Linked DNA regions of Homo sapiens: regions 1, 2, 4, 5, 6 and 7 are each reported to be linked to region 3. Evidence: microRNA targets listed by miRTarBase, many of them from high-throughput screens and not tested one by one. Region 3 holds a microRNA gene; each other region holds the end of a gene's coding sequence.

Region 1 (3,099 bases), not on the chromosome of region 3:
CTCACTGTCCTTCCACTCAACAGTCATCAACCACTACCGCATGCGGGGCCATAGCCCCTTTGCCAACCTCAAATCGTGCTGTGTGCCCACCAAGCTGAGACCCATGTCCATGTTGTACTATGATGATGGTCAAAACATCATCAAAAAGGACATTCAGAACATGATCGTGGAGGAGTGTGGGTGCTCATAGAGTTGCCCAGCCCAGGGGGAAAGGGAGCAAGAGTTGTCCAGAGAAGACAGTGGCAAAATGAAGAAATTTTTAAGGTTTCTGAGTTAACCAGAAAAATAGAAATTAAAAACAAAACAAAAAAAAAAACAAAAAAAAACAAAAGTAAATTAAAAACAAAACCTGATGAAACAGATGAAGGAAGATGTGGAAAAAATCCTTAGCCAGGGCTCAGAGATGAAGCAGTGAAAGAGACAGGAATTGGGAGGGAAAGGGAGAATGGTGTACCCTTTATTTCTTCTGAAATCACACTGATGACATCAGTTGTTTAAACGGGGTATTGTCCTTTCCCCCCTTGAGGTTCCCTTGTGAGCCTTGAATCAACCAATCTAGTCTGCAGTAGTGTGGACTAGAACAACCCAAATAGCATCTAGAAAGCCATGAGTTTGAAAGGGCCCATCACAGGCACTTTCCTACCCAATTACCCAGGTCATAAGGTATGTCTGTGTGACACTTATCTCTGTGTATATCAGCATACACACACACACACACACACACACACACACACACAGGCATTTCCACACATTACATATATACACATACTGGTAAAAGAACAATCGTGTGCAGGTGGTCACACTTCCTTTTTCTGTACCACTTTTGCAACAAAACAAAACAAACAACATTAAAAAATTGAGAACAAGTATGGAAAGAATGAAAGATCAAGGAAAAAAGAATACCAAGTTACATTTCGTTAAGGTGCTTATGATCTTAGAACTATGCAACCTAATAGGTTTGAAACTGTTTACCTGAGAGAGAACAAAAAGAGAGACTTTTTTGTATTGGAAGTAATCTGATTAATTTTTATTTTCTTCAAGGAGAGATACTTGAAAGGAATATGTTTGTCCATCTGTTGGATCCAAACATTTCTATATTTTGTAAATGTTGTTGTTGTTTTTTTTTTAATCGTTTACTATTTGCACTACAATGGTGTTTGACCTGTCTAATCCTTATTTAACAAGTATTTTCTTTGGTTGGGGGTGGGGGTGGGGTTTAAGAGCTGCACTTAATGTGAGCTATAAAAGAACTGCTACAGCACACAAAATAGCTATTTTTATTATTATAATTATAATTATTATTATTATTTTGTACCTTAAAAAATAGACACATACACCAAAGACATTTGTGTGAGCCTTTAAACAGTCTGTCTGTGGTTGGTATCATTCACCATCAATGAGTCAGGGGTTGGGATTCAAGGTTGAGTAGTGTGGATTGTGTTCAGGCTTAAAAGACCTGAGAAGTTTGGTTTTTGACTCCTTTTACATCCATGAAACAGGACATTTCATACTGGATGTACAGTAGTTGTACACTGTTGGATATCAAGTTCAATCAAATTCATGGAACTACATGCTTGTATGTGTATATATACATTGCTTGTGCATATGCATATCTGTATGTATATATACATGTATTGTACCATGTCCATACACATTTTAAGCACTTCAGGCTGTCATTTTTTAATGTTCTTAAAGCAATGAATGTTTGTGTGCAAAACACAGTATTTTTAAGAAGGATAGGCTATAGTTTTTGCTTTTACTCTGAACTAGGTGGGCGCATTTCAAAAATTCGGATGGGAAAAAGCCTGGAAATTCCAGTGAATATTCAGCAAGGCCCTCTTTCATTGTACAGGGATCAAATTTCCTCCTCTTTTTTGTGCCCCCTCCCACTTCTACAAGTTATCCCCTGTGGGGAAAACAGGATGATAATCAAAACTCTGGGCTGATGTTTTTCCAACTTAGTGTCTATTGGAATCAATCTTAAATCAGAAGCTTTTTCAGAAAAATAATATTTAGGCCAGAATTAGAGTTGAGTGTATTTTTTAAAAATGATTAAGGCTTGGTTGTGAGAAATATTACCTGTACCAGCTGGGAAAAATAATGTCATCACTAACTAAAAGATAATTAATTTGAGAGAAAGTGTTAAGAGAGGGAGAGTAAGGAAGAGAACAGTTAAGAGGAGGCAGAGGTGAGGGCAGTAGTAAAAATCTCTAAAATTTTAATTTACAGCCAAAATTCTTCATGTGTAAATTTGTATTGATTCAGATGCAGAAATGAAAAAAAAACACCTTTGTTTTATAAATATCAAAGTACATGCTTAAAGCCAAGTTTTTATCTAGTTTATTCTAGTACTTAGCTTGCCTGGAATAGCTAATAAATTATTCATGTATGTGCTTTTGAAAATCCAGAGCCCTATTTTTACACACTTGTGTGAAGTTGGCAAACATTTTGAAAAATGGAAAAAAGTTTCTAATAATTGGGAACAATTACATTAATTAATATTTTGTAAAATATTGAAGCTTTTAGCCCTATGTCAATTTGTAGATTAAAATAAATTAATTATAGGAAAGGAAGATAACAGTGAGAAACCAAACATTACAAAAGGTGGTTTAGCTCTCCTTGAAAAATATACTAAGTTGGTATACTATAACACTTGGCTATATGTAGGCAATGTCACTACTGGGCAAATACACTTACTGTGTTCTAGAGGCAGCCCTTTCTTATGCAGAAAATACAATACGCACTGCATGAGAAGCTTGAGAGTGGATTCTAATCCAGGTCTGTCGACCTTGGATATCATGCATGTGGGAAGGTGGGTGTGGTGAGAAAAGTTTTAAGGCAAGAGTAGATGGCCATGTTCAACTTTACAAAATTTCTTGGAAAACTGGCAGTATTTTGAACTGCATCTTCTTTGGTACCGGAACCTGCAGAAACAGTGTGAGAAATTAAGTCCTGGTTCACTGCGCAGTAGCAAAGATGGTCAAGGCCATGGAAAAAGCAGAAATTTACCAAGAAAGCTGATACCCATGTATAGTTCCCACTCATCTCAAATACATCTGCTATCTTTTTAAGCTAAGTCCTAGACATATCGGGGATAAC
Region 2 (3,081 bases), not on the chromosome of region 3:
TAAGAGCAATCAGAGCTGCAAGGCAGGCGGTGGTGGAAGATTGGTGGCTCATGTTCATATTCTGCCAACGCTCATAAAGCTTTCTGAGGCTGAACTGAGAGTACCTCTAAGGAGGGAAGGCTAAAGGCTTAAGTTGGAGACTAGACAGCTTTGTGTAAATCATTGTTTCCTGACTTGCTTCTTGGTCTTGGTGTAGCAATAGGTGTTCACTAAAATAAATAACACTGAATGAAAGAATTTATAGTAGGGAAGGAATCATACCTTTTCTTCTTCTGTTAAACTTATACTCAGGAGTCTGACCCAGTCTTTTTCCATATTTTAATAAAATCCCTTCTTTACAAATACATACATATATGTATATCACATGTTATATACATATATGTATATAAAATGTTATATGTATATAACATTTTAAACATTTACATACCTTACTGAGCAATTTAGAAAATTGTTGCAGCAGGATAAAGATGGGAAATCCTTTCTAAATTTAATACTAAGATAAGCATATTTTATAAAAGTTGTTTGCTTTCTCAGAGGGACTTGAATTATCTCATCATAAAACAGCAGTTCTCAAAGGCCTCCTAAAGATTGATTTGCTATGAATGTGTTACTAATTGCAAAGTTCAACTCTAAGTGCTGGTTGTTATGTTTTAGGCGCAAAAAGCCATGAACTGACAGTCCCAGTACTGAAAGAACATTTTCATTTGTGTGGATGATTTCTCGAAAGCCATGCCAGAAGCAGTCTTCCAGGTCATCTTGTAGAACTCCAGCTTTGTTGAAAATCACGGACCTCAGCTACATCATACACTGACCCAGAGCAAAGCTTTCCCTATGGTTCCAAAGACAACTAGTATTCAACAAACCTTGTATAGTATATGTTTTGCCATATTTAATATTAATAGCAGAGGAAGACTCCTTTTTTCATCACTGTATGAATTTTTTATAATGTTTTTTTAAAATATATTTCATGTATACTTATAAACTAATTCACACAAGTGTTTGTCTTAGATGATTAAGGAAGACTATATCTAGATCATGTCTGATTTTTTATTGTGACTTCTCCAGCCCTGGTCTGAATTTCTTAAGGTTTTATAAACAAATGCTGCTATTTATTAGCTGCAAGAATGCACTTTAGAACTATTTGACAATTCAGACTTTCAAAATAAAGATGTAAATGACTGGCCAATAATAACCATTTTAGGAAGGTGTTTTGAATTCTGTATGTATATATTCACTTTCTGACATTTAGATATGCCAAAAGAATTAAAATCAAAAGCACTAAGAAATACATAGTTGTGTGATGGCTGTTCATTCAACACGTCCTCCCAGCACCTGGCACAGTGCCCTGCATTTACCTGGCACTCATTGTTTGCGGGATGAATTAAAAGAAAGCTCTAAAAAATACAAGATAATATGATGTTAAACGGACAATGCCTTTTTTTATGTGACAACCATAATTATCTACATATTAAGTATGACTTCTAGACATTTAAACAAAAAGCATAGTTTGGGGACAACATAAATTAGAAAAAATACTGTCGAAACCATGGTGAAATATCCCATTGCATGGGTGAACACACATTTTACTTGGATTTAATTTGGATTTCTTTTGAGGCTGAGCTTTTTTTTTTTTTGAGATGAGTTTCGCTCTTGTTGCCTAGGCTGGAGTGCAATGGCACGATTTTGGCTCACCGCAAACTCTGTCTCCTGGGTTCAGGCAATTCCTCTGCCTTAGCCTCCGAGTAGCTGGGATTACAGGCATGCGCCACTACGCCCAGCTAATTTTGTATTTTTAGTAGAGATGGTTTCTTAATGTTGGTCAGACTGGTTTTGAACTCCCAACCTCAGCCACCTGCCTCGGCCTCCCATAGTGCTGGGATTACAGGTGTGAGCCACTGTGCCCGGCCACTTTTTTTTTTTTTTAACTAAAATGATAGTTTAATCTTTTGTTATTAATAATAAAAGTGTGATATCAGTCCTTGCCAAAAGCCAACTCAAAAGTTAAGGGAGAAGACAAAATGCACTAGTCACTCACAGTATAGTAGTAAACAATGTCATATATGTGTGTGTGTGTGTGTTTTTGAGGGGAGGGATGGATTTTCACTCTTGCCCAGGCTTGAGTGCAATGGCGCAATCTCGGCTCACCGCAACCTCCGCCTCCTGGGTTCAAGCGATTCTCCTGCCTCAGCCTCCCCAGTAGCTGGGATTAAAAGCATGAGCCACCAGGCCCAGCTAATTTTGTATTTTTAGTAGAGACGGGGTTTCTCCATGTTGGTCAGGCTGGTCTTGAACTCCTCAGGTGATCCGCCCTCCTCAGCTTCCCAAAGTACTGGGATTACAGGCGTGAGCCACTGCACCTGGCCTATATGTGTGTTTTTAGAACGCTTCAGGACACTAAAGGTTAAATTGCTATTGCAGTAGATACAGAATTTATTTCTTGATTTTCTTCTTAAAGTTTTTTTTTTAGAAACAGGGTCTTGCTCTGTTGCCCAGGCTGAAATGCAGTGGTGCAATCATGGCTCACTATAACCTCAAACTCCTGGATTCATGTGATCCTCCTGCCTCAGCCTCCCAAGAAGCTGGGACTACAGGTGCTCACCACCATGCCCAGCTAATTAAATTTTTAAAAATATTTTTGTAGAGCTGGTGTCTTGCTATGTTGCCTAGGCTGGCTTTTTTCTTTCTTTTTTGAGATGGGGTCTCATTCTGTCACCCAAAATGGAGTGCAATGACATGATCACAGCTCACTGTAGTCTCAACCTCCCAGGCTCAAGCAATCCTCTCACCTCAGCCTCTTGAGTAGCTGCAACTACAGGCAAATGCCAGCACACCTGGCTAATTTTTTATTTTTTGTAGAGATGGGGCCTTGCTCTGTGGCCTTGTCTGGTCTCAAACTCCTGGCCTCAAGCAATCCTCCCGACTTGGCCTCCCAAAGTGCTAGAATTACAGGCATGAGCCACAGCACCCAGCCTGCTTTTTAAATTATTATTTAAAATAATAGAGACAGCCCGGGCATGGTGGCTCACAACTGTAATCCCAGTACTTTGAGAGGCTGAAACAGGATGGCTTGAGGTCAGGAGT
Region 3 (3,099 bases):
CCCAAAATTACTCTTAAAATTATTTCAATTTGAGTGTAGCCTTTGGATGTTCTAAGTGTTGCTTCAGAACATATGGCTTAATGAGTAATCAATCCTTAGCCAGTTTGTTAGCCTTGTCTTTTTCATGAATATCATCATATAATCCTACCGAGTTTTTTTAAGTCTACTTAATCTTCTGGGAACCAAAGAGGAAAATATGTCAAGAGCTGTCTGTACTCTTAAAAACAGCTCTTAATATGCACCAGAATGAATAGCTACTTTAGTAGTTACTTTTCTCTTATTTGTGTTTATGACGAATATAACTTTAGTGCTATAAATGCAAATATGTTTAATAATGAGACTTAAGTTCATTAAACTCTTAAAAGTACATCCTTTTTCTTATTTTCACTTTCATATTTTGCTTATATTGAGTTTTTTTGGTTGGTTGTTTATGATAAAGTCTTGCTCTGTCACCCAGGCTGGGGTGCAGTGGCACAATCTCAGCTCACTGCAACTTCCGTCCCCGGGATTCAAGCAATTCTCGTGCCTCAGACTCCCAAGTAGCTGGGATTACAGGCACATGCTACCACGCCCAGCTAATCTTTGTATTTTTAGTAGAGAGTGGTTTTCACCATGTTGGCCAGGCTGGTCTTGAACTTCCAACCTCAAGTGATCCACCTGCCTCGGCCTCCCAAAGTGCTGGGATTACAGGTGTGAGCCACCGCACCCGGCCAGTATTAAGTACTGATCACTTTAAAATTTTAGATAATCAAAAGTATTTTAATCAAAATTAATGTAATCTGAATAGCATTTATTATTATAGTTGTAAAAAATTAAATTGTTTTTATTCATAGGCTCGAAAAGAGATTCTAAAGATTCACACCAGGGATTGGAATCCCAAACCACTGGACACATTTTTAGAAGAGCTAGCAGAAAACTGTGTTGGTAAACATTGTTTTAAGCAGTTAAAATAAATACTACATTTATTTCAAATATGAAACAAGTTATATTAGGTTGGTGCAAAAGTAATTGTGGTTTTTGCCTGTAAAAGTAATGGCAAAAACCACAGTTTCTTTTGCACCAGACTAATAAAGAAATACAAGGTTATATTTGTTTCTTATCTCTTATTTGTGGCATTTTCTTCTCATGAAGTCTTGGTATTAAATAGAGATATTTGACAAATTGGCCATCAGGGGCAGAGTAGATAATAATATAATTGTACAAAATACAATATATTATTATATCATAATAAGATAATAGCTATTCTTTACTGACCATTTTGTAGTCATCCTTTTAAGCATTTTACATATATTATTTCATGTAATTTTCACATCATTCCTGTGATGTAGGTAGCAGTATCTCTACAGATGAAGAAATGGCTGGAGAGCATTATGTGAATCTTCTAAGGTCATACAGCTAGTAAATTACAAACTGGAATGTGAATCTAGTCTGTGTGATTTTAAAACTCTTGCTTTTGACCTCTGTGCTATACTTAGTGCTTGTGTATTGCACTCTTAAAAGTTGATTGATTGTTGATGGCCATTACTACCCTATAAGTTTACTGGGTAAAAGAGATTTTGGTCTTATTACTCTTAAATATTTGCTAACTATATTCCGAGGCTGATTTTTAATTTTTTTTTTAACCATGGTCATGCTAATAGAGTTTTGTGTTTCTTTGTTTGGTCGGCTGGTTCTTTTCTTCCCCTGGTTGCTTTGGATAGGATACTGTGGAGCAGATATTAAATCAATATGTGCTGAAGCTGCTTTATGTGCTTTACGACGACGCTACCCACAGATCTATACCACTAGTGAGAAACTGCAGTTGGATCTCTCTTCAATTAATATCTCAGCTAAGGATTTCGAGGTAGCTATGCAAAAGATGATACCAGCCTCCCAAAGAGCTGTGACATCACCTGGGCAGGCACTGTCCACCGTTGTGAAACCACTCCTGCAAAACACTGTTGACAAGATTTTAGAAGCCCTGCAGAGAGTATTTCCACATGCAGAATTCAGAACAAATAAAACATTAGACTCAGGTATAAAACTTGATTGACCATTTAAAGTTAGTTTTTATAATCAGTAAAGTGAAATGTTTCATACATACCAGAAATATTTATTTGTAAAAGAATCTCTTGAAAAGAATTTGGTAATGCTTTACCTGGGATATTTGAAGGAAATTTACTCCATGGATTGCCCTTAATTTAACTTATTGTAAGTTTGGGGTGCATTTTTACATTTACTTATTAATTCATATCTACACAAATATTTTTGATTCTTTGAAAAAATTTAATTGAAGTATGCTGACTTGGTAACTGAAGCAATAAAGATTTGCTTTGCAATCCAAAAGTTACTAATGTACAATTTTTTGGTTTTATAGATATTTCTTGTCCTCTGCTAGAAAGTGACTTGGCTTACAGTGATGATGATGTTCCATCAGTTTATGAAAATGGACTTTCTCAGAAATCTTCTCATAAGGCAAAAGACAATTTTAATTTTCTTCATTTGAATAGGTATATTTTTCTTGCAAATCAATGTTTTTTGCATGTGTAAATTTTCTAAAAATAAATGAGATGTGGTTGAAAAAATAAAAAGTGCTAACCAATCTGCTTTTTATTTAAATTAAACTACCAGAAATTTTTTGTTGTTACAGTTGTCACAACAGTAGAAATTACAGTCTATAAAAATATTCCTAAAAACCTTTGGGGGTCAGTTTCCAGAAACTATGTGAACCATGTTATGATTGGTTGGCCTTATTGGCAAGACTTTTTACTTATGAAAGTTTATAGTTGACAATTTAGGGGGAAAATTTAAACTGTTTTTTCTAAAACATAGCTTATTAATCATTTCTCTTTCAGAAATGCTTGTTACCAACCTATGTCTTTTCGACCAAGAATATTGATAGTAGGAGAACCAGGATTTGGGCAAGGTTCTCACTTGGCACCAGCTGTCATTCATGCTTTGGAAAAGTTTACTGTATATACATTAGACATTCCTGTTCTTTTTGGAGTTAGTACTACATCCCCTGAAGAAACATGTGCCCAGGTAATTTGTTGGTGCCCAAGTATAAGACAAAACAGGCTTTCAGAGGCAAAAGCTAAAATTGCCCCATTTTTTTGTATT
Region 4 (3,099 bases), not on the chromosome of region 3:
TCATTTCACAGATTGATGCTATTGATGCTTTTTAAATCAAAATAATACATGCATGAGGTTTACTTTTAATGTGCACAAGATATTTTAATGACAGGTTTGTAACTGATGTCTGGTATTTTTTCTCTACCTGAGAGTAGACTGGAGAGGTTAGAATAATGAGAAGCCATTAAGGATGTGTAAATTGACCTACTTATCTAACAGAATAGCTTAGAGAGGGTAGAAATCAGACTAATAAAAATATATTCCCAGTATATTTCAGTTGTTTTTTTCCCTGTATCTTATTCAAGATGTAACTGTACAATGGATAGTAATGATATTTTCTTGACATTGCAGTTCCTGGAAGTTCATCTAAATGGGAGGAAGTACAGTCCAAAGCAAACCATTTATTATTGAACACATTTGGCATGTATAGATGTACTATTCAGCTTCAGAGTTACAGGCAAGAAGTGGACAGAACTTGTGCAAATTGTCAGAGTTCTAGTCCCTAATTTTATGTATTTTGGGAACTCCTGCCTTATTTATCCTGCAGTCACAGACTTGAGAGCAATAAATGCAAACCTAAATGAGAAAATGGAATCCCTGACAGCTGTGTCCGTATCAAGCATCAGTCTCTCAAACAGTTGCCCCAGCCTGACAGTGCTAGTCTCTGTTTAATGGTAAAAGGAGACTTTGCCATAATTTTCAGATGAAGATGTTTCCCAAACACTGTTTACAGAATGAGATGTGACTCTACAGATACCTCATAGAAGACAATCCAAGATCATACTTCATTAACTTGACAGAGTACGTGTCTTAAAGGAAGCATCAAGAATTCAATATTTGCATTTAAAAATACTTTTTAAGGCCATTTTATATTAAGCCAGTGCTGGAAAACTGAATTTTTTTTATTATGTATAATAATCTCGACACCCAGCTTCTGGAATTGCTGCTTTCTTTTTACAGAAATTACTACCCAACAGATTTCAGGAAGTACTAGTAGTTATCCCAAAAGTGGAATAAGCATGTATTCCTAAGTGTTTCAGAAATGTTTTATTTCACACATAAGTCTTAATGTTATTGTTATGATTATACTTTATAAACAACCTTTTCCAGATGCTACAGGGTTTTGAATCTCAAAGTTAACATTTTTCATTATTTGTAATCTTAGAACCAAATCTTTATTTATTGTGGTCACTGTTATTAAATGATTTAGGAAATACTTTCAATATTATTCTGAATGGCTGAAGTTAGTCTTAAACTCAAATTACTATATGATGATTTAAAACAAAATAAAAGAGCGAGGATGGGGGTTGGAGTTTCAGGTTTATGTCTTCCCGACATCACTTTTATCATTCATGAAATTGTCTTAAAAAAGCAAGAGACTGCAAAATGTAAACAGTAATCTTCTGTCCCTTTAAGAACTGCCAACAATTTGTACAAAAAATGTGGTACGTTGGTTCCTGCCTCCACTCCAGGTCATCTGTGTGTTTAGCCTTTCAGGGTAAACTCTAGAGGGTTCAGTTTATAATTCCCACCTTTCACATATAGTTCAACAACATTAATCCAGAGAGAATTTTATGTTTTATGATATGGGTTATGTTTTATTATATATTTTATGTTTTATGATATGGGTTAGGGATTCTCCATGGACTCCAGAAACCCTAAAATACAATTTTGAGGTTTTCCAATAATACCATAGCAGAAATGTCCAAGGGGTTGGGGGAAGATATTACTTTGAGAAAACAGAAATGTAAAGGATTTTTGACCTTATATATGTGTGTGGTTTTGTTTTTGTTTTTGTTCTTGAGAGAGTCTCACTCTGTCACCCAGGCTGGAGTGCAGTGGCGTGACCTCTGCTCACTGTAACCTCTGCCTCCTGGGTTCAAGTGATTCTTCTGCCTCAGCCTCCCAACTAGCTGGGACTACAGGTACACCACACCCAGCTCATTTTTTTGTATTTTTAGTAGAGACAGGGTTTTGCCACATTGGCCTGTCTGGTCTTGAACTCCTGACCTCAGGTGATCCGCCTGCCTTGGCCTTCCAGAGTGCTGGGATTACAGCATGAGCCACCATGCCTGGCCTGTATGTGTGTGTTTTAAAGCACTAGATAGGGATGGACATTAAATCTGTGTTGCAGGGAAACTAAACAGAGGTTTCCAAACTGAAGGCAACCTAATTGTAAATGCCTGTGTTAAAGAGGCAGCTTGACTGTTCATGTTTCATTTTGCAACCATTGGTTTTGAGATTATCTTTTATGCACATTTGGAGTCCCTTTTCAACAGTGACAGTTTCTTACACGAAGAATGGATATGGTTATTGGGCTCCTCTAAGAATCAGAGTAGGGTAACAATGTACCAGGCAAATTGTAAGTTGAAATTCTAGATAAGCATGCAGATGACTTACAATATAAATGAAGAATAGGAAACATTTTATCTTCTTACCAAGTACCTTACTATAAGTAAACCTAAGATAAGAAAACCCAGATTTACCTATAAGATTGTTGGGAGTTAATGGTGTCAATAAAAGGATTGATGGTCCCTCTAATGAAACCCAGTAGATGTTTGTTGAATTGAACTGAAAATTTATGTGGCCAGACACAGTGGCTCATGCCTGTAATCTCAGCATTTGGGGAGGCAAAGGTGGAAGTATCCCTCGAGGCCAAGAGTTCATGACCAGCCTGGTCTTTTGTAGAGACCCTGTCTCTACAAAAATATAAAAATCAGCCAGGCGTCGTGCACACCTGTAGTATCAGCTACTTGTAAGGCTGTGGCAGAAGTGCTTTAGCCCAGGAGGTTGAGGCTGCAGTGAGCCATGTCCACACCATTGCACTGCAGCCTGAGTAACAAAATGAGACCCTATCTCAAAAACAAAAAGGAAAAGAAAATATACATGATGGGATTCCTATTGTGAAGTCATTTAAAATAATGACTTGAATTTCTCAGAAATTTCAGGAGCATATAAACTATTTAAATCAAAATATTCTTACATATAGAAACCAAGTAAGAATAAATGAGAGATATTTCAGTGGACATCTGGACATATTTATGGACTTTGAGTATCTAGCAAGTAGAAAGGAAAAAAATATTCATCATACTCTAATCATTTTTTTATATCTATTGA
Region 5 (3,000 bases), not on the chromosome of region 3:
TGAGATCACCCCACTGCGCTCCAACCTGGGTGACAGAGCGAGACTCTGTCTCAAAAAAAAAAAAAAAAAAAAGATGTACAGAATCTTGCTGTATAGAAGGGAAAACTGAGGCTCAGAGAGCGGCAGGGAGGGGCCCATACATGGTGATCCACATGTCAGTGTACTGCTGTCCCTGTTCCACACAGCCCACCTCTCCTGCTGCTCTCTTTCTCCAGGACCCCGGTGCCATTTGGAGGACCCCTCGTGGGGGGCACTTTTCCCAGGCCAGGCACCCCCTTCATCCCGGAGCCCCTCAGTGGCTTGGAACTCCTCCGTCTCAGACCCAGCTTCAACAGAGTGGCCCAGGGCTGGGTCCGTAACCTCCCAGAGTCCGAGGAGCTGTAGCCCTAGCCTGAATCTTCAGTTCCCCAGTCTCGGGGGCCTGGTAACATCCGGAGCCAAGACTTGTGGACAGCACTTCACAGTTGAAGAAGGGCCTTCACACACAAAACCTGATTGCAAATGGCTTCAGAGGTCACCAAGTTCAGTCGTCCCAAAACATGGGTGTGTTTCAAAATTACCTGGGGATGTTGTTCCAAATCCAGACAACTGGACTGTCCCAGACTTGCAGCATCAGAGTCTCCTGAGTCGAGGAATCTGTATTATTAATAGCAACCAGGGCCGGGTGTCGTGGCTCACGCCTGTCATCCCAGCACTTTGGGAGGCCGAGGCAGGAGGATCACCTGAGGTCAGGAGTTTGAGACCAGTCTGGCCAAAATAGTGGAACCCCGTCGCTACTAAAAATACAAAAATGAGTCGGACATGGTGGTGCATGCCTGTAATCCCAGCTACTTGGGAGGCTGAGACAGGAGAATCACTTGAACTAGGAGGCAGAGGTTGCAGTGAGCCGAGATTGCGCCACTGCACCCCAGCCTGGACAACAGAGTGAGACTCCTTCTCAAAAGTAAATAAATAAATAGCAACCAGTACTCCAGGTGATTCCAGCATAACTTATCCATGGTTTGTGTCATTAGGAGTCCACATCCACACCTCTGCTCTTTCCTGTTCCTGTAGTGTACACTCCCCCGGTGACAGGGTGCTCACTGGCACCCCATCTTCCTGTGAATAACTCAAATAATTAGAAAATGTTCCTTTTACTGAGATGCAGTTGGTCTTCATCTATTCATGCTCTAAACAGTTCCTAAGCGCTGACTGTGCGCTAGACACTGCCAGGCCCGGGCCTCGAGGAGGAAAAGACAGTAGGGAAGACATTATAGAGCATGAAGTCACCATAATTTTCCCTAAAGCATGCTTATTGACAATTGAGGAACAAAGTGTTGTGGAGCAGAAGAAGGAGTCCCTCACCCTAGGTGTGAGATGGGATTCTGGAAGCTTCCTGAAGGATTTGAGTGGGACCTTGTGGGAGGCGTGAGAGTCCATGAAGGGGGTGTGAGGGGGAGGGTATTTCTGGAAAGTGGACCAGCATGTGCAAAAATATGGAACTGAGCACGGGTGCAGGGTGTTCTGCAGAAGGGAGAAGGCTGTGCTAGAGGAGCCAGTGAGGGCCAGCATGGGGTGGGCTTCACTAAGGAAATGGGGAAGGTTTTAGTGATGGGTCTTGCTGGGTGCTGTGTGGGGCGCATATTGGAGAAGGGTAATGCCAGAAGCCAGGAAGCCTGCAAGGGATGAGGCCATGGGAATGGAGAGAAGGGGCCACCCACTGGGCACCTAACAGGACAGGTGCAAAGTGGGGTGCTTATTAAGATTCCTTCTTTCCACTCCATTTTGAGCAGGCTGCTTAAAGTGGTGGTGATGATGATGATGATGATGGCAGCTTTATATCGAGTGCCTCAGTGCTTGGGCTGGTAGTAGTTTCTCTACATATCTTATTTCTAATTCTCAGAACAACCCTGAGAGAAAGATATTGTTGTCCCCACTTTACAGATGTGGATATTTAGGCCAAAAGGAGGAAGTGACTTGTCCAGGGGCAGACACCAAATGGGAATCTGATTCCAGTGGATGTCTCTTTTCAGTGCACTGGGTGGTCAATGCCCACTCGCTCTGAAATCATCTGACTGTGATGCCCTGCCTTGGAGTTTAGAAGTTGAGTGCAGGCTTGGGAGTCAGACTGGATGGGGTAGGTTCTAACTCTGCCACTGCTAGCCGGATGAACTTGAGCAAGTCATTTCACATCTCCGAGCCTCTGTTTCTCCAAGTGTAAGATGAGGACAAGTATAAAACCTCCTTTATGGGTTTGTTGTGAACACAGTGCAGGGCACATTTATAATAAGAGCTCAGTCAATGGTAGGTTTCATGCAACTGCTGCTCTAGGCTGGAAAAGTTGTTCTTGCACTGGATGCAGCATGAGAAGCTGGCTGCTAAGATGTCACTGGGGGTCACTAAAGCTGAAGCCTGAAGGAAAGCCTCTCATTGCTGTAGAGCTCTCCCTGCCTCTCTCTCTGGGGGCGATGGGGAAGGTCAGGAGTCCAGCCCATTCCCAGGGTGTGTGGGATAGCGATTGCATTTTCCTTTTGCTCTGGAGTTTCACTCCCCTTCTGGGTCCCAAGGGCCCAATGGCCTGACTTTTAGAATTGCTTGCAATTGGTGTTTTCTCTTGAATTTGGGGGCTGCCATTTAAAGCCAGGTTTCCATGAGCTGAAGACCAGCCATTCAAGAATCTGAAAAGTAGACAAGAGGACTCCAGTTGCCTCAGGTTGGTTCTGCTGTGCTCTGGAAAGTAACTGCAGCCACCAGGTATGAAAAGGAGCCTGGTGGGGAGACCACTGCACCCAAAACAAATCCTTTCTTCTTCTGAGAATGTGACTTTTTCTGGTGTTGTAAAAAAGAAAAAAAAAAGAATGCTCATTGTAAAAATAAAAAAATAATAATAAGCAAGGAGTAAAATGTGAAGTGTCTGCCCACATAGTCCTCCCACATACATATGTACACCTTCCTACCTCTGCCATTCCTACACACCAGAGGTAACCACTGATGACAATTTGGTCCTTCTAGAATTGTAGA
Region 6 (3,099 bases), not on the chromosome of region 3:
AAACAGTACTGCTAATTCACCTGCTCATATAGACCCTTCCTTCAATCCCCCAGATACTTGGCATTTAAATGTTATTTCTAAATCAGATACCAGGAAGCAACTATGTGAGAAAGAAAATGAAAATTCTAGGTCTAATACATGTTAAACAAGTTTCAGGTAATAGTAGCTGAGAAAAATATTGATGCACATAATGAAACAAAAAGAATTGCCAGATATAATGTGGTGCACAGGGTACTCGATAAAAACATGCACTTTGTCTCGCTGAAATGTCCTTAAATATTGTCTGAGCACCAAATTCTGCAAAAGCAAGGATCTAGAATTCCGAATTTTAGAAGTTATAAAGAGAACTTCACTGCAATTAAAAGAGAAGGCAAAAATTCCAACTTCCTGAAGGACCCCATTATTCATATAGAATCATGACAAAATTTACCATGGAATTAGAATGATACCTATGTTCTTCCACTAGATTCACTTATTAAGAGATCTGTCTTTATATGGAAGTAATGTTTCACGGAATGAAACTAACATTCATAGTAATCTCTGATATCACATTGAAGGGAACAGCATACGAGCAAACAAATTTTAGAATCTGTTTTGTGAATAGTCTGACAATGTAAATAAACATCTCCCAAAGTAGAGAAAAAAACAAAATTTTAATACAAGAAGAAATAAAAATTATTCACTTACAAACCACCTACACATTTTGTTTTCCCAACAGACACACTTTAAAAGCACAAATAGAATATAAGGCAAACAGTACAAAGCTGTGAAAAGGGTAGCAGAGAACTGAGGCATTCATTTATAAACAACATCACAGAATATAAACGAAGATCATATTTTGTGGATGTTTGCATTCACACTGAGCTTTACTCTTTTTTTCCTATTAAGGTCTTTCATTTACAGGTAATGATCAACAAGACAAAAATATGTAAATGACTAATTATAAATATGAAAAAATTCAGTGACATTTTCTATAACTATTTCCCCATGTCACTGACTGCTAAGTTTTCACTTCCTTACTAGGCTGAGTTTCAAATGAGGTATCCGTACTCATCTAAGCTTTTCACTACTGCAAAACAAGCTTGACTATTGGGAACATTAACATTTATCTTCCCAAGAATCACTCATCATTCTTTGGAGAAGAATCTACTTGTTAAATTAACAGCATTTATCTCTGGTTTCCACTTAATATCATTTCACTCTAGTAGTTCCTGAATTTTGGACTGCATATTTGTTTCATTTCCAAAAAAAAGAAATATGGAGTGTCAAACACTAAGAATAGGTATTTAATTATTAAATACTAAAAGAGTACATGGATAAAATAAAACAATCACTAGTAATTCCTTAGTACTTAAGATGCAAGTGTCCATACAGTCTTGATTAGTACGGCATTAGAAACAACAGAGGGCTGTCCTTGATGACTAAATCCCTAAACAACGTCAGTGTCCAGACCATGAATTACATATTTTTTGACCATGCATTACATTATTTTTTAATAAATGTTCAATAAAATTCTTTATAGTGGAAAATTACTCAATGAATAACCACTCAAATCATAGTTGCCTAATATAAATTCTAAACTTAGCTAAAATGAAGGCCTCAAAAATAATTTATCTACAATAAACATACCAAACTGTTACTTTAAAAAAAAGAGTTTTTAGACATTGCTTTGGAAAGAATTCCTGTATTAGTTTATAGAAGATGAGAGGTCACTTGACGAAATGGGTGACAGAACTAAGACAATGGAGAAGGTAACTGGCTGATCTCTTTTTTTTACACCGGATGTGACTTGTCACTGGACATGCTAATGTCAGTCGTTACTCCTTATGAAGCAGACACGGACAGGTCTACAGCATTACATAATAGATGTGTCAATAAACTGTGTGTGTCTGTGGGTGCATACGTACGTATTCTAGAGTAGAAGTTACCATAAAGTTCACACACCAGAAACATAAAAATATGATACATACCACTTTTCAAAAAGCAGAAGATTTTTATCAAAGGAAATGTTAGAAGAAATCTCAATATATAAAATAGAAATAAAATACTAGGCTATTCTGGCTAAAGCAGAGTAGGATTAACAGAGACCCTTCCCAACCTACAATGACTGATGAAATACCTGTTAGTATTCCAAGGAATGGGCTGAAACCTCTACTCAGTAAATCCTGTTTATTTTGCGAAAGTCAATCACAAGACTTTTTTTCCCCATTATCTAGGCATATATGAAAATTTTATGATAATGCAACTGAGTATAAAGTTAAAAAGTAACATTTCTTCTCCTTTAAAAATAACTAACAAAATAAAACCACTATGCTATATAAAACCACATTATTTTTAACCTCATAATCTTGATACATGGAAAAAGTTATTAGTTCTCCTTAAAGTGCCTAAATTTTAAAGACTTAATTTTGTCCATATAAATCTTGTCCAAAATATATGAGGGAAACGGATGGCAGCAGGAGAGGCATTATTTTTCTATATCACACATGTATCTTCTACCTGACTGACCAATTTAAATATTCTGCCCAAGAATCTTAACTTTTTGTCACAGAATATTCAGATAGAGAAACATGCAAATAGAATTGTTCTGTTCTAATCACAAAGATCAGGTAAATTTTGATGGAGTGCTCTGTGTTTGTTTCAGACAAACTGTTCATCTCTTTGCTCCAAACACTTCCCCATGTATGGAGGGACTACTTTAATCCATGCAGTTGATATTAGCAAAATACGAATAACATGTTCTTTTCTGTAAAGATCATGATTAAATGTCTAAATTCAATAAATAGACTCTTTAATAATTTGAAGTCCTAACAAATATTTTATAGTCATCAAGTCTCAATCTTTCTTCTTTTCTAATACATCCTTGGGCTCCTGCACTGTAGGCACTACAGATCCTCCACTGCTGGGCTCCTGCTGTTCTTTGCTCTCTTCTATCTGTTCTTGGTTTTCATTTTCACTTTTAGACACTTCATATCGTTCTTCTATATAACCTCCATCTGTGTCGGCTGTGTAGATTCCATAGCACATGATACTGATGACACCCAGTGGCAGGCCAAAGAGAAAGCAGCCCATCAGTGGTGAGCTCTTGAATATAGACTG
Region 7 (3,096 bases), not on the chromosome of region 3:
ATACAATGGCTTATTTAAAATGTCCCTATGCATGGTGAAATGTTAAATACCAAGTGGATGAATGGTTCTCAAATATATTGTAATGGAGAATTATTCACATGCATCTATTGTTTAAACTAATAAGTAAAATAGACTTCCTTTTTCTGTTCTGTTTTAAATGTGCACTAAAATTACCTGCTTGTGGTTAGCATGGGCTGGACAGTTTATTGATTTTTCAGAAGAATGCTTGGCTTTGGGTTTTTGGCAATAGGGAGCCTGCAGCAAATTATTTCATTTGACAAAAAAGAGTTATTTTAATCCTATTTGAATGTATGCTATCTCCTTTACCCTCCCCATCTTATGATAAAAGGTCTCTCTTTTTTCTCTTCCAGGTTTGCAGCTAAAACTGTGCACAGTGGGTCATTGATGCTAGTCACAGTGGAACTGAAGGAAGGCTCTACAGCCCAGCTTATCATAAACACTGAGAAAACTGTGATTGGCTCTGTTCTGCTGCGGGAACTGAAGCCTGTCCTGTCTCAGGGGTAACCTGCTTACATCTGGACTTTAGAATCTGGCACACAACAAAAGTGCCTGGCATCCACTACTGCTGCCTTTCATTTATAATAATAGCCCTTCCATCTGGCAGTGGGGGTAGAATACACTCTTGACATTCTTGTCTCCTGCTTTAGAATGCTAGTGTGTATCTATCATGTATGCAATACTTTCCCCCTTTTTGCTTTGCTAACCAAAGAGCATATATTTTACTGTCAGTTGTCTCAACTCTTGAATCCATGTGGCGTTTTCTCTGTCCTGCTGCTTCTTTTGGCCTCCTCGTTTTCCTTCTCTTTTTCGACAATGGTAGACATGAATGAGATATTTAAAGTTCATTGGAAATCTTCTTCCCTACAGCAGTAAGCAAAAATTAGCAAAGAGATAGTCTAAATGGCCTCTCAGCTTGGTATGTGAAAATGAGATCACATACTTTTTAAATCCAAATACAAAAGCATAGTCTCTGCAAGATTTTGTTCTTTGAATTTCTTGATATTGTAATTGATTATTGATAACTGTCATCATGAAATTATCTCTCAATAATAAGATAAATAAACTAGCATATGAATCATATTTGTCTTTGCATTTTTAATGAGAAACTATTAATAATCCTGAAGTTCATATGCTAAAGTTTTCTTATTTTAAAGCAAGTATTTTGAGTGTTACATTATGCAGAGAAGCAATGTGGTTTAGTTAGCGAAAGAAAAACCACTTCCAAACCAAGTAAATTTTCTACTTATAGTTTACTCCAAGGAAAAAAAATTGGTGTATTTAATAACAAAAACAAAAATCTTCATATTGCAAAATAAACATCTTCTAGGTAGTTTTGATCTATTAGTAGATATCTGATTATGTGGCCTGCTGAATAAATTCTTTGAATCTCATTTTTCCTTATGCCCAACTTTGGAAACTAACTAGCATAAACTTATAGAAATGTTTAAAACTAGTTATATGATCAACCTATTAGCATCTTTTCCTAGAGTATTTGTTTTATTTGCTACCTTAAGTTACTGTTTTCAAGGTTGTTCTATAATCAGAGAACTTTTCTAATACTTTCGTACCTTTTTAAAACCAGCTGAAATTTTACTTCCTTTTTGAAGCAAGGTAATGGACTTTCAGGTAGTATAAGCTACTCAGTTCTTTTTGTATAGAGCCACATACATAATGATTTTTAAAAAGTAAAAAGGAAGTGACTGTACATTGCTTGAAGCATTATAGGAAGGCTGAAAAGAAAAGAATGGAATTTTCTTGGAACATACATATTGAAAAGAACAAAACAGAGTCGAAAAATTATTTAAATTTTCAAGCTGGTGGGATGACAAGAGTAAACAAAATTGTTAAATTTTCCTGCTCCAGAAAGAAATATAGCCCTGAATCTCCGGGAAGAGAATGTACAGAAGTGCAATGTACAGAAGCCACGTGTACATTTTGTGCCAATTCCGTACCATGTGTACATTCTGTACCATTCTGTACCAATGTATGGAAGCCACGAGTTCCACTTCCCTCTGGAGCCTGGGCGCTGTGGTAACACACCCAAAAGCCCCTTTGTAATCGCAGGTCGTTGGCATTTCCATATTAGCCTTATTGCTCAGAGCTTCATAACTTTGAATTTTAAGTCAATAACTTTTTGAAATGTCAGACAGAATTTGACAGGTTTAATACCTGTTTTCTGAGGAAGAAAAAAAAATTATATCCATGCTGTCTTCAGGCAGAGGGAAAGTGCATGTTGTGATTGAGAAAGGTCTTATTTTTCCTTAAATTAGGACACTCATCTTTAAAAGATAGTTCACACATTTGTATTTTTTTAAACTAAGGAAATTTAATTAGGGCTTTACTTTTGACTAAGTTATTTTTGGCTGCTAACTTTTAAAATTATGGTAAATCAATAATATAATGTAGTATGAATCAGTGAACAGTATGTATCGATTGTAATGTGCGCTACCAGTTGAAACCATTTTAACACTAGTAGCTTAATATCATTAAAATGTTTTTCACGTAAAACAGAAAAACGACCAAAGCCCCAAGTTAAAGGTTTGGTTTTTTTTCTTTTGTGGTGTGGTGATTCAGAGTTCCTTGCCTCATATTTCCTTTAACTTTGTCATAATCCATGATTATCTTTAAATTGTTCCATTGAGTCGAGTTAGTCAATGTTGAATTCTTAATTCTAGCTATATTTTTTCATTTTAATGTTCACTTAATGGGACATTTTATGTACACCAATCTTGAAGAATGGCTCTCATAGTATATTTCAGACTAAGCCTCATTTTTGATATCACAATACATTTGCTTTATTTATTATGAGAGTTTTTTTATTCTAAAGAGACTGTAACAATGCATTTCTCAAATTAAAATACTGTATACTTGTCCTTCTCGATAACTATTTGCAAACGTATGAATAACTTTATAGCTTACAAAACGTTTGCCCTTATAACCTGTGTTCCCGTTGTTAAGAATTTAGATGTTAGACAAGATAAGAATCCAGACTGATGGAAGATTTCAAAAAAAGAAAAGTTGGACCAGCTAAAAGAGAACCTAAGATCTTTCCCCTGACTTGTTCCCTCTCTGTTG

Evidence for each region. The annotated mature microRNA hsa-miR-548t-3p reads AAAAACCACAAUUACUUUUGCACCA and lies in region 3 at 995-1,019, opposite strand. An mRNA with a match to its seed (bases 2 to 7 or 8) in the 3' UTR can be bound and repressed. Matches are read on the target gene's strand: a 7mer-m8 pairs with bases 2 to 8, a 7mer-A1 pairs with bases 2 to 7 and ends in A, and an 8mer does both.
Region 1: miRTarBase lists INHBA as a target of hsa-miR-548t-3p. Seed matches in the 3' UTR shown: 7mer-m8 at 1,467-1,473.
Region 2: miRTarBase lists KIF23 as a target of hsa-miR-548t-3p. Seed matches in the 3' UTR shown: 7mer-A1 at 1,086-1,092.
Region 4: the mRNA of SLC30A4 is a reported target of hsa-miR-548t-3p. Seed matches in the 3' UTR shown: 7mer-m8 at 1,760-1,766 and 7mer-m8 at 2,214-2,220.
Region 5: the mRNA of MYOZ3 is a reported target of hsa-miR-548t-3p. Seed matches in the 3' UTR shown: 7mer-A1 at 1,581-1,587.
Region 6: miRTarBase lists TMX3 as a target of hsa-miR-548t-3p. Seed matches in the 3' UTR shown: 8mer at 2,319-2,326 and 8mer at 2,301-2,308.
Region 7: the mRNA of AP3B1 is a reported target of hsa-miR-548t-3p. The part of its 3' UTR that is shown has no 7-base or 8-base seed match.

What each region holds. Positions count from the first base shown.
Region 1 is chr7:41,686,741-41,689,839 of GRCh38, reverse strand. It overlaps INHBA (inhibin subunit beta A), which reads left to right. Exons shown (of 3, transcript NM_002192.4): 3 at 1-3,099. The coding sequence ends at 190. Among named protein-coding and RNA genes, the nearest start is that of INHBA-AS1, 5.6 kb to the left of the region's middle.
Region 2 is chr15:69,447,138-69,450,218 of GRCh38, forward strand. KIF23 (kinesin family member 23) reads left to right here. Exons shown (of 24, transcript NM_001367805.3): 24 at 655-1,288. The coding sequence ends at 670. Among named protein-coding and RNA genes, the nearest start is that of RPLP1, 4.1 kb to the right of the region's middle.
Region 3 is chr8:123,346,008-123,349,106 of GRCh38, reverse strand. It overlaps MIR548AA1 (microRNA 548aa-1), which reads right to left and starts at 1,073; the gene lies at 977-1,073. ATAD2 (ATPase family AAA domain containing 2) reads left to right here. Exons shown (of 28, transcript NM_014109.4): 15 at 834-924; 16 at 1,701-2,015; 17 at 2,357-2,489; 18 at 2,835-3,021. MIR548D1 (microRNA 548d-1) reads left to right here and starts at 977; the gene lies at 977-1,073.
Region 4 is chr15:45,482,552-45,485,650 of GRCh38, reverse strand. It overlaps SLC30A4 (solute carrier family 30 member 4), which reads left to right. Exons shown (of 8, transcript NM_013309.6): 8 at 334-3,099. The coding sequence ends at 488. All of the region lies in intron 3 of SLC30A4-AS1 (SLC30A4 antisense RNA 1), which reads right to left. Among named protein-coding and RNA genes, the nearest start is that of SLC30A4-AS1, 35 kb to the right of the region's middle.
Region 5 is chr5:150,676,492-150,679,491 of GRCh38, forward strand. MYOZ3 (myozenin 3) reads left to right here. Exons shown (of 7, transcript NM_001122853.3): 7 at 216-2,877. The coding sequence ends at 384. Among named protein-coding and RNA genes, the nearest start is that of MYOZ3-AS1, 5.5 kb to the left of the region's middle.
Region 6 is chr18:68,674,098-68,677,196 of GRCh38, forward strand. It overlaps TMX3 (thioredoxin related transmembrane protein 3), which reads right to left. Exons shown (of 16, transcript NM_019022.5): 16 at 1-3,096. The coding sequence ends at 2,836. Among named protein-coding and RNA genes, the nearest start is that of TMX3, 39 kb to the right of the region's middle.
Region 7 is chr5:78,000,331-78,003,426 of GRCh38, reverse strand. It overlaps AP3B1 (adaptor related protein complex 3 subunit beta 1), which reads left to right. Exons shown (of 27, transcript NM_003664.5): 27 at 372-1,101. The coding sequence ends at 525. Among named protein-coding and RNA genes, the nearest start is that of TBCA, 230 kb to the right of the region's middle.